Regions from separate parts of the Homo sapiens genome. Here region 1 is linked to region 2. Evidence: fine-mapped expression QTL. A gene starts in region 2. The other region holds a variant in brackets. All regions are shown on one strand. Distances are from middle to middle.

Region 1 (5,374 bases), 45 kb after region 2:
TCCATAATCATTGGACACAGGGCATGGTGCCCGTCCATAATCATTGGACACTGGGCATGGTGCCCATCTACCATCACTGAACACTGGGCATGGTGCCTGTCCATAATCATTGGACACCGGGCATGGTGCCCATCTACCATCACTGAACACTGGGCATGGTGCCTGTCCATAATCATTGGACACTGGGCATAGGGCCCGTCCATAATCATTGGACACAGGGCATGAGGCCCATCTACCATCACTGAACACTGGGCATGGTGCCTGTCCATAATCACTGGACACTGGGCATGGTGCCTGTCCATAATCACTGGACACTGGGCATGGGGCCCATCCATTATCACTGGACAATGAGCTGGACACTGGGCATGGTGCCCATACACCCTCATTAGACAATGGGCATTGTACCCATCCATTACCAATGGACACTGAGCATGGTGCCCATCCACCATCATTGGACCCTGGGCATTGCACCATCCACCATCACTGGACACTTGGCATAGCACCTGTTCATAATCACTGAACAATGGCTATGATGCCTGTCCACCATTATTGGGCATGGCACCCATACACCCTCATCAGACACTGGGCATGGTCCACCATCATTGGACACTTGGCATGTCCAATGACCATAATTACTGAACAATGGGCATGGTGCCTGTCCACCATCACTGGACACTGGGCAAGGCACTTGTACACTCTCATCAGACATTGAGCACGGTACACCATTATTGGACACTGGACATGGCGCCCATCCACTATCAATTGACCCTGAACATACCTGTCCATCATCATTAGACACTGGACATGGCGTCCATCCACCATCAATTGAATCATCATTAGACACTGGGCATGGTGCCCATCCACCATCAATTGACCCTGAACATACCTGTCCATCATCATTAGACATTGGACATGGCACCCATCGATAATCATAGCACACTTGGCACGGTGCCTGTCCATAATCACTGGACACTGGGCATGGCCCATCCAGCATCACTGGACACAGGGCATGGCACAGTCCCCACCATTGGACATGGGACACAGTGTCCATCTACCATCAGGAGACTCATAGCACTGGACATGGCACTCATCCATTCAGGCCTTTGAGAACGCCCAGAGGAACAGTTTCCTTGGGCAGCAGAGCAGCCATGGGACTCTGAGGGAGCCATGCTTGGTGGGAGTGAAGGGCAGGCGGTGGGCAATGTGGCCAGAGAGTTGCCTCACTGGGCTGACCCGTGTTCCCCAGCAGCTGGCAGCTTTGTGGGTCAGTTTCCACCCTCTCCATGGGCTCAGGTGGCCTCAAGTGTTGGGAACCACCCCACTTTAAAAAGATTAATCAATAAGTCACATTAGCAAATTCACCAACAGCAAATTGAACCCTCACTGTCTATAGGGGACATACTATGAGGAGGAATCAGTTAATTTATGCAGATAGCTAATTACCCCTACAAGTAACCAATTACGAAGCTGCTATTTCTTTGGATGAATGCTGAGCCTGCCCACTGACATCTGACCCAAAACACTGGACCTGCACTTGACCGTGGTCTGACGGAGGAAGCACCCGGAGACAATTCCAGCTGGTACAAGAGTTCACTCGGAAAGCAGGGCTTGGAGCAGGGGCCAGCGCCTGCTGCTCAGGGTCAGTTCCCCCGCTGCCAGTGTGGCTAACGTTAGCCTGGGCATGTGGATGAGAAGGAGCTTGAGGGGTGGGTAGGAACAGGAGCCCTGCCCCGGAGGCTGTGGCCATGGGTGGAGTTGGGAGAGTCTGAAGGAGCCCTCACCTCGAGGGTTGTTGTAAAAGAGTGTGAGCTCCCTTGAAAGATAAGCCGCGCTCGGGGAGCTCCATTCCTCACCCCGGAGCTGTGGGCTCAGCCTCTCAGCACCCTGGGCTCAGCCTCTGAGTCCTGGCGTGGGGAAGACGATGCCTGTGTGCCACAATTGTTGGTGGATTAAATCATTCACTAGGTGTCCATCTCCATCCGCAACAGTCACAACTGGCTTGGTGGAAGAGGTTGTTCTGTACTAGCCACAATATTTGTGATTCTCCTCCCTTTAAATGAATTAATCAATAACATCATTGTCAAATTCACCATCAGCAAATTGAACCCCAAAATTAAACATCCAAAACACAGACTGACTCAGTGGTGGTGCCAAGGGGGGCTTAGGTGGAGATGTTCACATTTGTCGAGCACCTTCACCAGGGCGTGGCCATGCCTGGCGCAGGGCTTCCAGCCCAC[C/G]TGACCTTCTCTGCAGGCGCTGAACACTCCCAGCCTCCCGCATTGGGGTGGGGCCGTGTGATTCCTTTCAGGCCAATGGAGTGCAGCCAGAAGTGACAAACCCACTTCCAGGATTGTCCTAAAAACTCTCACAAAATCATCTCCACTCACCGCACCCGTCGGTCCGCTGGGAGGTGGTAAACTGAGGTCCCAAATCGTCTTGTAGAAAGTAATCTGCAGAAAATCAGACTGGACTGTGATGTAAGCCAGAAATCAGCCTGCATTGGATTCACCCTTTTCCTGTTTAGGAAAAAACAAAAAGTGCAGCTCACTCCCAGCGCTCATTTAATTTTACATAAACACGCTCTTTGAGGCTGAAGCAAATCAGATTTTCAATGTGAAAATAAAATATAAAAGCTGTTCTTGGAGTTATTTCTAAACAGAACTAGCATCAGAATTGTCTGAATCATCAGAATTGTCTATTTTTGAAAAATCAGATTCATCAAATGAATCTTCAGCCAAAAACTGTTTGAGAATGATGTTAACATCACGCGGAGGAATGCTACGTTTTCTAGGATTTGACATTTTCAGCGATTGAGAATGACTGTATTTTGTAAATGGAAGTACCTCTACTAAAAACAGAGTGCTATAAATAGAATGATGTGTTTTGTTTCCAAAGTCGATATACTCGAGCACTGTGAAAATAATAAAAACAAGATATTGTGTGGCAAAGTTATCTCGGGGTAAACGCTGCAGCCACAAGCACCACCAGTGAGTATTCTTGGAGCAAATAGGAAAGGGTTAAACTGCTGGGATTGGGGGGTTATCTGTTACCAGGCTAACGTTTGCTCAATTCGAATACAGAGCATGTATTTCCAAGAAGTTGCTGCCTGCATGGAACAAGCGACAAGTCACCTGTGGCCAGAAGCCACCCCCATTAGATTCCACAAAGCCTTAGTGCGAAGGATTGGTCAGCAGGGGAAGCTTAGAGATTGGACCAGCCTGGCCAACATGGCGAAACCTCATCTCTACTAAAAATACAAAAATTAGCGCAATCTCGGCTCACGGCAACCTCCACCTCCTAAGTTCAAGCGATTCTCCTGCCTCAGCCTCCCGAGTAGCTGGGATTACAGGCACCCACCACCATGCCTGGCTACTTTTTCTATTTTTAGTAGAGATCGGGTTTCGCCATGTTGGCCAGGCTGGTCTCAAACTTCTGACCTCAGGTGATCCACCCACCTTGGCCTCCGAAAGTGCTGGGATTACAGGTGTGAGCTACCACACCCAGCCTGAATCTCCAATTTCTAAGCCTCCCTGCTGACCAATCCTTCTTCAGAATGAAACCATACTCCTTCGGCTATTTTAATGTCAGTTCTCTTGTGTCAAAATAAAATACAAACACCCCAAGTGACACCACTCTATTAATACTGGATTCAGTTCACTGTAGCTTGGATGTTTAACTTTTCAAATTACGAGAAATGAGCCAGGCACAGTAGAGCATGCCTCTAGTCTCAGCTACTCAGGAGGCTGAGGCAGGAGGATCACTTGAGGCCAGGAGTTCAAGGCTGCAATGCACTAAAATCATACCACTGCACTCCAGCCTGGGCAACAAACCAAGAAATAAAATTATAAGAAATGATCATTCGTTATAAAATTAACCTGATATCCAATATTAAGAGTTAAGCCGGGTGTGGTGGCTCACATCTTTAATCCCAGCACTCTGGGAGGCTGAGGTGGGCGAATCACTTGAGGTCAGGAGTTCGAGACCAGCCTGGCCAAGAGAGTGAAATCCCATCTCTACTAAAAATACAAAAATTAGCATGACATAGTGGTGGTGCGCCTGTAATCCCAGCTACTTGGGAGGCTGAGGCAGGAGAGTCTTTGAACCCGGGAGGCAGAGGTTGCAGTGAGCTGAGATTGTGCCACTGCACTCCAGCCTAGGTGACAGAGGGAGACTGTCACAAAAAAAAAAATAAAGAAAGAAAGAAAAAGAAAAAAAAACTATTAAGAATTAAAGAGGCCAGGCGCGGTGGCTCATGCCTGTAATCCCAGCACTTTGGGAGGCTGAGGCAGGCAGATCACGAGGTCAGGAGATCGAGACCATCCTGGCAACACGGTGAAACCCCGTCTCTACTAAAAATACAAAAAATTAGCCGGGCGTGGTGGCGGGCGCCTGTCGTCCCAGCTACTCGGGAGGCTGAGGCAGGAGAATGGCGTGAACCCGCGAGGCAGAGGTTGCAGTGAGCTGAGATTGCGCCACTGCACTCCAACCTGGGCGACAGAGCGAGGCTCCGTCCCAAAAAAAAAAAAAAAAAAAGAAAGACGTTTGAACTTCCTGACTTCTTACACAGGCCTAGTTCTTATAACATCAGACAGACGAGCACCACCTGCGGTGTTCATTCACATACTTGGGTTGAAAAAGACAGACGCAAGCTCAGGCTGGAGTGAGGAAAGGACACAGAGAGGTTTCATATGTGGGCTGTCTCAGGATCCCGAGCCTCAGGAAGTGGCTACAACCCAAACTGCAAAGACCCCAGCACTCTTTTTCTCAGCGTTCAGCCTCCACCTGTGTATTCGCTTTGCTCCTCCATCTCTAGACGGCTTTCACTACTTACCTGGGCTCCAGGCTCCATGAAATTCTGTGTCCGGAATTGGTGGGTTCTTGGTCTCACTGACTTCAAGAATGAAGCCGCGGACCCTCGCGGTGAGTGTTACAGCTCTTAAGGTGGCGCGTCTGGAGTCTGTTCCTTCTGATGTTCAGATGTGTTCAGAGTTTCTTTCTTCTGGTGGGTTCGTGGTCTCACTGGCTCAGGAGTGAAACGGCAGACCTTCGCGGTGAGTGTTACAGCTCTTAAGGCAGCATGTCTGGAGTTGTTCTTTCCTCCCGGTGGGCTCGTGGTCTCGCTCGGTTCGGGAGTGAAGCTGCAGATTTTCCCTGTGAGTGTTACAGCTCATAAAAGCAGCATGGACCCAAAGAGTGAACAGTAGCAAGATTTATTGCAAAGAGCAAAAGAGCAAAGCTTCCATAGCGTTGAAGGAGACCCGAGTGGGTTGCCAATGCTGGCTCGGGCAGCCTGCTTTTATTCTCTTATCTGGCCCCACCCACATCCTGCTGATTGGCAGAGCCCAGTGGCCTGTTTTTGTCAGGGCACTGATTG
Region 2 (5,374 bases):
GGCAGGACGTCCCACCCGGGGAGGGGCCCCTTCCTTGGGCTCACGTTCTCAGGAGATCACAGTGCAGTGTCAGCCAGGGCTGCAGTCTCATCTGAAAGCTCCCCTGGAGCCTCTGCATCCAAGCTCACGCACATGGCTGGTGACTGGACCCAGTTCCCCCCGGGTCGCTGAACTAAGGGCCTGAGTTCTTTGATGGTTGTTGGCCTAAGGCCACCCCAGCTCCGTGCAGGGGAGGGCAGGGGCCTCTCCACCAGGCACTCTGAGGAGTGCTCACCCCCCGCAGGGAGAGGCGGGAGGGACGGGGAAGGGCAGAGGACACATCAGGTTTTTCATCTTACTGCGTTTTTTTTAAAACAGGAAGATCTGAAGCCAACTACATTCAGCAAGTTTTCTTAAGAACAAAGTAAGAAAGATAAACCAGAACAGCCCTGCTTGGCTTATCCCGGCCTCGCCTTAACCCTCCCTTCCCTGCCGTCTTTCTGTGGCTCCCCTCTGCCAGGTGCCCCCTGAACTTTAAGATTCCAGGATGGTTTGAGAACAACTTCGATGTTTCTGTTTTCCCATTTATGAAGGCTACTGTGCTCTCACCAGTGAATTTAATTACAAGATTTTTAGAAGCAGCTAAAAAAATTGCAACTCAGATGCATCAGTGAATCAGTCCTATTCCCTGTCTGCTAAAGGATGTCTTTTCGTTACCATCATCTGCCGCAGGGCTTTTCTGACAGTTCATATAATTCAAGATAATTGAAGCCAATTTTGCAAGCAAAACGACAGGAACCACTACATGAAATAGCACATCAAGTCTCTGATTCACAACAATGGCACTATTTCCTCAATGGTTTTAAAATTCTCTTGGCTAGGCGTAGTGGCTCACGCCTGTAATCCCAGCACTTTGGGAGGCCGGGGCGGGCAGGTTGTTTGAGCTCAGGGGTTCAAGACCAGCCTGGGCAACAACGTGAGACCCTGTCTCTACAAAAAATACAAAAATTAGCTGGGCTTGGTGGCGCATGCCTGTAGTCCCAGCTACTTGGGAGACTGAGGTGTATCAATTGAGAAAAATGACAAGACAAGTCTCAATCATTTTAGGAGGTTTACTCGCCAAAGTTAAGGACGAACACTCGGGAGACAGTCTGTACCTTTCTCCGAAGATGATTTTGAGGGCTCCAAATTTAAAGGGGAAAGGGTGAGATAATGACAAGTACACAATTTTCATCTAAGAGGCGGGTAGAGAAAAATAGTCATGCGTTTGGCTCATTGAATCTGCATTATTTTTACACAAGATGACTTAGACAAAGGGGGCAGGGGAACAATCAGGTTTGCATTTGTGTCTGGCGGGCAGGGGTTGACTGCACCTGTAAAGATGAGCTATCGATTTGCATTGCTGTGGTGAAATCTTAACAGAAACACCTTACAGTAAAGATTGCGGAGCTCACTAGGAATTTCCTTGTGGACAAAATATAGGGGAGGTGTGCAGTTTTTCATCTTGCAGCATCTTATTTAGGGACCAAAAGGGGAGGCAGGTTTGCATGACCCAGTTCCCAGCTTGACTTTTCCCTTTGGCTTGAGTTTGGGGGCCCAAGATTTATTTTCCCTTCACAGGTGGGACGATGGGTTGCAGGGAGGATGGGAGCCTGGGAGGCAGGGTTGCAGGGAGCCAAGATCATGCCACTGCACTCCAGCCTAGGTGACAGAGTGAGATCCTGTCTCAAACAAAACAAAACAAAACAAAACCTCTCTCTGGAAGAGAAAGGAGGGACTGTGAAAACAACCGAGGGAACAGGCAGCTTTCATTACCAGCAGCATGGGATCCTCGCCCAAGGCCGAGAAAACACAGGAGTGAAATGACAGCTATAGAGGTACACTCCGCAGGCTGCATGAAAAGGACAAAAACAGTAATATACACACCAGTAAGGAACGGCATTGGCATGCTCCGCCTCCTGTGGGCAGCCTGGGGATGAGGTCATTTTCCAAAACAGGGAGCTGGTCAGCATTTTCCATGCCCAGGGCAAGTTCCCCTTGATGGACAGCACCTAATGACCAGCGCTGAGTCAGTCTAGGAGCAGAAAGACTGGAAACCCTGGAGTAGGGGCCACGTCAGCATGACTCACTCAAGCAACGGCAAATTCTCACAGCAACAACATGAAACGCCCTCCAGGGTGATGACTGTGGGAGCAAAACTGACCGGAACCTGGGCGGTGCATGCACTGTGCACCCTCCTGGTTAACAGCCCCACGGCCCGAGAGCTGTGCTTTACATGAATGTCTTCTGTTAAAGCAGCTCGTGTGGCTTCTGCACCCTGGTGGAGCCAACACACGTGCCTGTCACGGAGGTGAGGAGTGAGTGAGTTCTCACCAGCATTTGACGCTGACCTTCCGGAGACATGGCGTCCCTGAGAGCCTGCAGCCTGCCAGAGCAGAGAGCCACCCGCTGGCCGTTCTGTTGGAATTTCGGAGTTCCTGTCTTTCAGGCAACATCTGCCAAGCGCGGTTTGTGTAAGGAAACCCATTCTGTCGTGTCTGCCGGGGCCCAGGGCGGCTGCTGTGCGGGAACCAGCTTTTGTGGCCCATGGAGCAACGACTCAGTCTGGGGCTCGGCTACTCTCCGGCCCGGGGTACTGGCATTTCCCTGGGGCCCATGGGGCGAGTGCCCCTATTTTTCCCATGAGGCCTCAGCCAAGAGGAGGTTCGGGAAGAAAGGAAAACACAGGTGAGGAGAGAGAAGGGCGGGCAGAGAGGTACCACGCCATTAGTGCTGATGGGGAGAGGCGGCTCCAGCCCGGCACTGCTGTCCTTACGAGGCATGTTTCCTTTTTATTCGGAGGAAGAGAAGCAGAGGAACACGTCATGGAGACGGACCGAGTTGAAGGAGCCAGGGATGGTGACAAGCGGAAGGAAGTGTGTTTTGTCCCCATCCAGGGAAGCTTTTGTTTCATGAGACTTACTTGCGCACGTCTGGTAGCTGCCCTGGACATTCATGGACTTTCGTTTTCACTCAGATTTTGTGGTTCACGTGACACAAAGCATGAGGACATCACTGGGCGAGAGGGCCAGGTCACCCCACTGCCGAGGGGCACGCCCCAGCTGTGCACCGCTAGAGTGGGCTTGTCCAGTCCTCGGACACGGGGACAGGGTGTGCCCATCTCATGTAAGACATGAATAATAGTAGAAATTTCTGTTGCATGAGAACTCTCTGCATTATCCTCACCATTTTCCTGTAAGCGTAAAACGTCTAAAACTTTTTTATGAGCACACTAATTCCTCACTTAAGGTCGTCATTAGGTTCTTGGAAATGGCAACTTTAAACAAAAGGACAGACAGCAGGTCCTCAAATAACATTCTTTCCTTCAACATCATTTCATCCTAAGGAGAAAAAAATGGATTTTGTTACATATCCTGGTTCATTTCCAAGAACCAGGTGGGCATAGAATTGACCAAAGGTGGAGGAGAACAGATGTGCGGCTCCGTCCTGGCTGTGTGGCTCCGTCCTGTGGACTAATGCGTGTGGACAGTCAGGAACACTTTCAGGACAATGTGGGTGGCCTGCCAATGGGACCTATTCCAGAGGTCTGAGAAGAAACCGTTGTTTAACCTAGAATCCTGCTAGGAATCAAACTAGCTTTGACAGGAAAAGGAAAAAGAATGAGGACTCTGAACAGGGACAGACTCAGAACAATTCTTATCCACTCATAGTTTAGGAAATAATCTTACAGCATGTGCTCCACCAGGGTCACCAACTGTCCCAATTTGCTTGGGACTGAAGGTTTGTTTGTTTTTGTTTCTTTGTTTTGAGACAGAGCGTCTCTCTCTGTTACCCAGGCTAGAGTGCAATGGCGTGATTTTAGCTCACTACAACCTCCACTTTCCAGGTTCAAGCAATTCTCCTGTCTCAGCCTCCCTGAGTGGCAGGGATTACAGGAACCCACCACCATGCTGGCTAATTTTTCAATATTTAGTAGAGATGGGGTTTCACCATGTTGGCCAGGCTGGTCTCGAACTCCTGACCTCAAGTGATCCACTTGCCTCAGCTCCCAAAGTGCTGGGATTACAGGCATGAGCCACCGTGCCCAGCCTACTGAGGGGTTTTTATGGACATGGGACTTTTAATGCTAACACTAGGACAGTCTCTGTCAGACTGAGATGATGGTCACTCTTTGGCCAAACACCTCCACCACTGCCCCGCAACATCCATAATAGCAACAGTTTGAGTAAAGACACAAGTACCATTTGCGGTCCAAATACTTGAGTGTGTAAACGGTGCATTGGGTGTGCACAGCGGTACCCAGAATCTCCAACTAGCTCCTCATGAGCTGGGTGGGGCATGCAGGGAAGGAGGCAAAGCTTCCCACCTGTCTGGGGAGGCTGTGGGCTCCACCTCTGCAGACTTTGGTAGGAGACCAGTGTTCATGCAGTTGTAGTAATGCACGTGTAGCTTAGGGTTTTTTTGGGACTAAACTATGGACAAAGCACAGAACTCAGTTGTCTCTGTAGAAAAGGGTGGCCTGTCACCCGGTACCAGGTGAGGGGAGTGTGGCAGTGGCAAGAGCACCTGGTGGTGGCCGAGAGGAGGCACGGAGGAGAGTCAGGGTACCGTGCCCTCATGGAGTGAGTGCGGAAGACAAAACAACAGACACAGTTGTAATGACATTACTTTATTTGGGGTTAAATTAGGGTGCACATCACAGAAAATCCTCAAACCACAGGGAATGAAATGGAAGTTGTTTCTCTCTGGTAAAACAAGTCTGAAAGCTGCAGTGTCATCAGATCCACGGCCCTGCATCTCTGCCACACCCCACCATGCACCTCCAGTCCTCCCGGCCTGTGGCTTCCAGGGCTCCAGGAACTAGGGAGGGACAGACACTGGGATCTTCTGCCATGAAGCAGAGAGGGATGCTGGGGAAACACATGGGCACTCGCTGCCACAAGTGCCTCCTGGAAAAGCAAAACCCAATGCCATGGCTGCCTCCCTCCGGCAGCACCAGCACGAGTGAGCCAGATCCTCACCTTTGATCATCAAGGCTGAGAGGTAATATCTGAGGTCGACAGATCAAGAAGTAGAGACAAAAGCAAACCAGGCTGGTGGTAAAGAGGAGGAATGACCGTAAGATGCCTCTGAAAAGTGGGAATATGGGGAATCTCCTCTTGGTTTCTGGTTGCACATGTGAATTTATTGAAAACTGAATATATTAAGATGTGAGCTTAGGAGTTGGCAGCCTGTGGCATGGGGAGGTGTGGGAAGTGGACAGTCTCAGGTCAGGGTGGGCTGGAAAGTGGTGCCACCTCGAGAACAGTAGGTTAACATCTACCCCCAGTGACGACATTCAAACCTTCATCCAGCATCCACTTCCAGGGGACATTTTCACAAAATATTCACGAGA

Direction of the effects. Alleles are on the strand shown, and positions count from the first base shown. SD is a standard deviation of normalised expression in the study named.
In carriers of allele C in region 1, the expression in testis of the gene that starts at base 2,143 in region 2 tends to be higher than with G alone (small effect, 0.33 SD a copy in GTEx).

What was found. PIP is the estimated chance that this variant, and not a neighbour inherited with it, causes the effect. A credible set is the group of variants that fine-mapping cannot tell apart.
Region 1: its variant is the best candidate, but not a certain one, in a credible set for the expression of PRECSIT in testis (GTEx, PIP 0.72).

What each region holds. Positions count from the first base shown.
Region 1 is chr13:110,822,005-110,827,378 of GRCh38, reverse strand. LOC105370363 (a long non-coding RNA gene) reads right to left here and starts at 5,272. Exons shown (of 2, transcript XR_007063874.1): 1 at 4,832-5,272; 2 at 1-2,516. The variant C/G (reference allele first, on the strand shown) is at 2,238.
Region 2 is chr13:110,867,077-110,872,450 of GRCh38, reverse strand. PRECSIT (p53 regulated carcinoma associated Stat3 activating long intergenic non-protein coding transcript) reads left to right here and starts at 2,143. Exons shown (of 1, transcript NR_027701.1): 1 at 2,143-5,374. RefSeq lists enhancers at 1,843-3,042, 2,400-3,086.